2 separate regions of the Homo sapiens genome follow, and region 2 is linked to region 1. Evidence: fine-mapped expression QTL. Tissue or cell type: cerebellum. Region 1 holds a variant in brackets; the other region holds the start of a gene. All regions are shown on one strand. Distances are between the middles of the regions.

Evidence for each region. PIP is the estimated chance that this variant, and not a neighbour inherited with it, causes the effect.
Region 2: it holds the start of LINC01012, and the variant in region 1 is fine-mapped to the expression of LINC01012 in cerebellum (GTEx, PIP 0.92).

Annotation. Positions count from the first base shown.
Region 1 is chr6:27,652,273-27,655,032 of GRCh38, reverse strand. It overlaps the pseudogene RPL8P1. Among named protein-coding and RNA genes, the nearest start is that of TRV-AAC3-1, 2.7 kb to the right of the region's middle. The variant C/T (reference allele first, on the strand shown) is at 1,303.
Region 2 is chr6:27,692,827-27,695,586 of GRCh38, reverse strand. It overlaps LINC01012 (long intergenic non-protein coding RNA 1012), which reads right to left and starts at 1,552. Exons shown (of 4, transcript NR_038294.1): 1 at 1,081-1,552.

The DNA.
Region 1 (2,760 bases):
TAATTTTTGTAATTTTAGTAGAGATGGGGTGTCACCATATTGGTCAGGCTGATCTTGAGCGCCTGACCTCAGGTGATCCACCCGCCTTGGGCTCCCAAAGTGCTGGGATTACAGAAGTGAGCCACCGTGCCCAGCCTACAAATGTTATCAATTTGATGAAGTCTAATTTATCTATTTTTGTCATTGTTCTCTGTGCTTTTGGTATGATATCCAAAAAATCATTGCCATATGTCATGAAGATTTTCTCCAATGTTTTCATCTAAGAATTTTAAGGTTTTTAGCACCTATGTTTAGGTCTTTGATCTGTTTTTAAGTTAGTTTTTCCCTGTATTATAAGGTAAACATCCAACTTCATTCTTTTGCATGTAGATATCCAGTTTTCCCAGCACCATTTGTTGAAAAGTCTGTTCTTTCTCCATTAAATGGCCCTGGCACCCTTGTCACAAATCAGTTGGCCATATAAGCCATAGTTTATTTCTGGGCCCTCTATTCGCTTGTGTCTGTATGTCTCTCCTTATGCCAGTACCATACTGTTTTGATTACTGTAGCTTTAAAGTAAATGTTGAGGTCAGGAAGTATGAAGCCTCCAACTTTGTTCTTCTTTTTCTTTTTCTTTCTTTTTTCTTTTTCTTTTTTTTTTTAGTATTCATTGATCATTCTTGGGTGTTTCTCGGAGAGGGGGATTTGGCAGGGTCATAGGACAATAGTGGAGAGAAGGTCAGCAGATAAACATGTGAACAAAGGTCTCTGGTTTTCCTAGGCAGAGGGCCCTGCCGCCTTCCGCACTGTTTGTGTCCCTGGGTACTTGCGATTAGGGAGTGGTGATGACTCTTAACGAGTATGCTGCCTTCAAGCATCTGTTTAACAAAGCACATCTTGCACCGCCCTTAATCCGTTTAACCCTTAGTGGACACAGCACATGTTTCAGAGAGCACGGGGTTGGGGGTAAGGTTATAGATTAACAGCATCCCAAGGCAGAAGAATTTTTCTTAGTACAGAACAAAATGGAGTCTCCTATGTCTACTTCTCTCTACACAGACACAGTAACAATCTGGTCTCTGTTTTCCCCACATTTCCGCCTTTTCTATTCGACAAAACCGCCATCGTCATCATGGCCCGTTCTCAATGAGCTATTGGGTACACCTCCCAGACGGCGTGGCGGCCGGGCAGAGGGGCTCCTCACTTCCCAGACGGGGCGGCCGGGCAGAGGCGCCCCCCACCCACCTCCCGGACGGGGCGGCTGGCCGGGCGGGGGCTGCCCCCCACCTCCCGGACGAGGCGCCTGGCCGGGCGGGGGCTGCC[C/T]CCCACCTCCCGGACGGGGCGGCTGCCGGGCGGAGACACTCCTCACTTCCCAGACGGGGCGGCTGTTGAGCGGAGGGGCTCCTCACTTCTCAGGCGGGGCGGCCGGTCAGAGACGCTCCTCACCTCCCAGACGGGGTGGTGGTGGGGCAGAGACACTCCTCAGTTCCCAGACGGGGTCGCGGCCGGGCAGAGGCGCTCTTCACATCTCGGACGGGGCGGCGGGGCAGAGGCGCTCCCCACATCCCAGACGATGGGCGGCCGGGCAGAGACGCTCCTCACTTCCTAGACGGGATGACGGCAGGGAAGAGGCGCTCCGCACTTCCCAGACTGGGCGGCCGGGCAGAGGGGCTCCTCACATCCCAGACGATGGGCGGCCAGGCAGAGACGCTCCTCACTTCCTAGACGGGGTGGCGGCCGGGCAGAGGCTGCAAACTCGGCACTTTGGGAGGCCAAGACAGGCGGCTGGGAGGTGGAGGTTGTAGCGAGCCGAGATCACGCCACTGCAGTCCAGCCTGGGCAACACTGAGCACTGAGTGAGCGAGACTCCGTCTGCAATCCCGGCACCTCGGGAGGCCGAGGCTGGCAGATCACTCGCGGTCAGGAGCTGGAGACCAGCCCGGCCAGCACGGCGAAACCCCGTCTCCACCAAAAAATACGAAAACCAGTCAGGCGTGGCGGCGCGCGCCTGCAATCCCAGGCACTCGGCAGGCTGAGGCAGGAGAATCAGGCAGGGAGGTTGCAGTGAGTCGAGATGGTTGCAGTACAGTCCAGCCTTGGGTCGGCATCAGAGGGAGACCGTGGAGAGGCAGTGGCAGAGGCAGAGGCAGGGGCAGGGGCAGAGGCAGAGGGACAGGGGCTTTTCTTTTATTTTTGCATAAAGACAAACTTTATTGAGCCCCTCAGCACTAGCTCTCTTTCTCCTGCACAGTCTTCGTTCCCCGGAGACGTCCAGTCCGGCGGGGAGCAATGAGACCCACTTTGCGGCCAGCAGGGGCATCCATCTTGAAGGCTGGCCGGGCCTACCACAAATATAAGGCAAAGAGGAACTGTAGGCCACGAGTACGGGGTGTGGCCATGAACCCTGTGGAGCATCCTTTTGAAGGTGGCAACCCCCAGCACATTGGCAAGCCCTTCATCATCATGAAGGTGTTTGAAGTTTGTCAAATGCTTTTTTGCATTAATGCAAAGAACTGTGTTTTTTCTTTCATTCTGTTTATGTATACATTATATTAATTACTTGTTTTATATGCTGAATCCTTCCATTTCAGGAATAAATCCTACTTTGCTATGGTGTATAATCCTTTTAATATGTTGTTGAATTTAGTTTGCCAGTATTTTGTTGAGGAATTTAGCATCAATATTCATAAAAAAATATTGGCCTGTAGCTTTCTTTTTTGTAATGGCTTTGTCTGGCTTTGGTATCAGAATAATGCTAGCTTCATAAAATGAGTTAGGAAG
Region 2 (2,760 bases), 41 kb before region 1:
CTATTTAATAGTACTGGGCATACAACTCCTCAATAAATGTTATTACAATCACTGCGACAGAACAAAGATCACTGGAGGAATATTTCCAAATCGTTAGAGGTTTTAAGATCATCACAACTGTAATCCCAGCACTATGGGAAGCCGAGATGTGTGGATCACTTGAGGTCAGGAGTTCGAGACCAGCCTGGCCAACATGGGGAAACCTCGGCTCTACTAAGTAGCTGGGCGTTGTGGCACACACCTGAAATCCTAACTACTTGGGAGGCTGAGGCAGGAGAATCGCTTGAACCCGGGAAGCAGAGGATGCAGTGAGCCAAGTTGGCACCACTTCACTCCAGCCTGAGTGACAGAGCTAGACACCATCTCAAAAAAGGAGCACCACTGAACTTTGTAACATTAACTGACAGAAAAGACACTAGACACTAGAATTCTATGAGCCCCCAGCAGTGTCAGAAAATCCTCTTACATGTATTTTGTTTTTTGTTGAAGAAAAAAAACTTAAACAGAGAAATATTGCTAGATTTCTTAGATTAGATAAGGATAAAATGAGAACTATCTTATTCTACTCGTTCCTTGTATTATTCAAGATTCAGTACCCTGCTGGTAAGTTTCATTCAGCGAATCCAGCACACATGAATTAAATGCTAGTTAAGGTACAATGTCTCCAACAGGCACGATGTCAGAATAATGGTTTCTGTCCATCAGAACAAAGGATGAGATGCGCCTCTTGGATTTGACTGTAGCCCAATGGTCATCATCGCTGGCTGCACATTAACATTATCCAGGAAATTTTAAAGCTCTATAGGTGATTCTAAGGAAGAGGAGGACTGAGAGGCCGACTGTTAAGATGCACTGCTACTGTCCGATGAGCACACACTCATCCATAACGTTACACATTTCCTATTCACCTGATGCCCAGAATCATCAAACAGTGTATTCAACACAGTCACGCCATTTCTGTTTTCCAGGTGACTATCCTCCACAAGATACTGTTATCCAGAGCAGGTAAACTCCCTAGCATCTGTCGCTCAAGAACTTAAATCCCTCCCTGCACCCAACCCATCAACAGTGACTTATTACCATCCACAAGCCAGGCTGCTTCCCGATGCACCTTTTCTCCTGGGGAGTGCCCAGACGAGCGCCATCTGCTCCTGGGTCAGAGGAGTCCCTGCAGAGTCATCGACTTCCTCATTTCCAAAAGCCCCATAGGTTGCACTGGAGTCCCGAGGCGAAGCGCCGACACTTCATCTGCCCGTCACCTCCCGATTTTTGCAATGTGTTTCTTCTGAACAAGAATGTGTGCCCTGGAAGCCAACTCAAGTCCCAGACCTAGGTTTCTCGACATTTCCCCAAGTCCCACCTGCGTCAGGTTGTAGGCTCCGGGGCCAGTCCCTTTCGATCCGCATCAAAAAACCTGGCGATCCCCTTTGGGCACAAGAGCTCAGGGCGTTGGTCCCCGCGATCGCGGAAGCCCACTTCCAGAAAAACTCGACCACTAACAGTAAGCTTCAGGGGTAGCAAAAAGGGGCAGAAGGGTTTGCATCCCCTGGCGTCATTTCCGGGTCCGCTCTGGAAACCTCGGAGGTTTCCGTGTCTCTGTCGTTTATTCCAACTGTTAATGCTCCATGTGCCTTTGACTCTCCTCACCTTCCCTTCTAAACACACGGGGAAGAAAGGTTCAGGTTTCCCAGAGAAATTGTGGGGAAAAACCTTTAAAGTATATATACAAAGGTAGACAGAATAGTACAGTGCATCCAATGTACCTGACACACCTTCAAGAATTACTAACTCGGCCGGGCGCGGTGGCTCACGCCTGTAATCCCAACACTTTGGGAGGCCGAGACGGGCGGATCACAAGGTCAGGAGTTCGAAACCAACCTGGCCAACATAGTAAAACCTCGTCTGTACTAAAAATACAAAAAACTAGTTGGGCGTGGTGGCGGGCGCCTGTAATCCTAGCTACTCGGGAGACTGAGGCAGGAGAATCGCTTGAACCTTGGAGGCGGAGGTTGCAGCGAGCCGAGATGACACCACTGCACACCAGCCCGCGCGACAGTGCAAGACTCCTCTCAAAAAAAAAAAAAAAAAAAAAAAAAAAAGAAGAAGAAGGCCTGGCGCGGTGGCTCACGCCTGTAATCCCAGCACTTTGGGAGGCCGAGGTGGGCGGATCACCTGAGGTTGGGAGTTTGAGACCAGCCTGACCAAAATGGAGAAACCTTGTTTCTACTAAAAATAAAAAGAATTAGCCGGATGTGGTGGTGCATGCCTGCAATCCCAGCTACTAGGGAGGCTGAGGCAGGAGAATCGCTTAAACCCAGGAGGCGGAGGTTGTGATTAGCCGAGATAGCGCCATTGCACTCCAGCCTGGGCAACAACAGCGAAACTGCGCCTCAAAAAAAAAAAAAAAAGAAAGAAAACAAGATGAAAGAAAAGAAATACCAACTCGTGGCAATTTTATTAATCTATAAACCACTCCTCCCCTTATGTGGTTGGAAGCAAATCTTTTTAATTTTTTTTTTTTTTTGACGGAATCTTGCTCTGTCGCCCAGGCTAGAGTGCAGTGGCGCGACCTCGGCTCACTGCAACCTCCACCTCCCGTGTTCAAGCGATTCTCCTGCCTCAGCCTCCTCAGCCTCCCGAGTAGCTGGGATTACAGGCACCCACCACCGCACCTGGCTAATTTTTGTATTTTTAGTAGAGACGAGGTTTCACCACCTTGGCCAGGCTGGTCTCAAACTCCTGACCTCGTGATCCACCCGC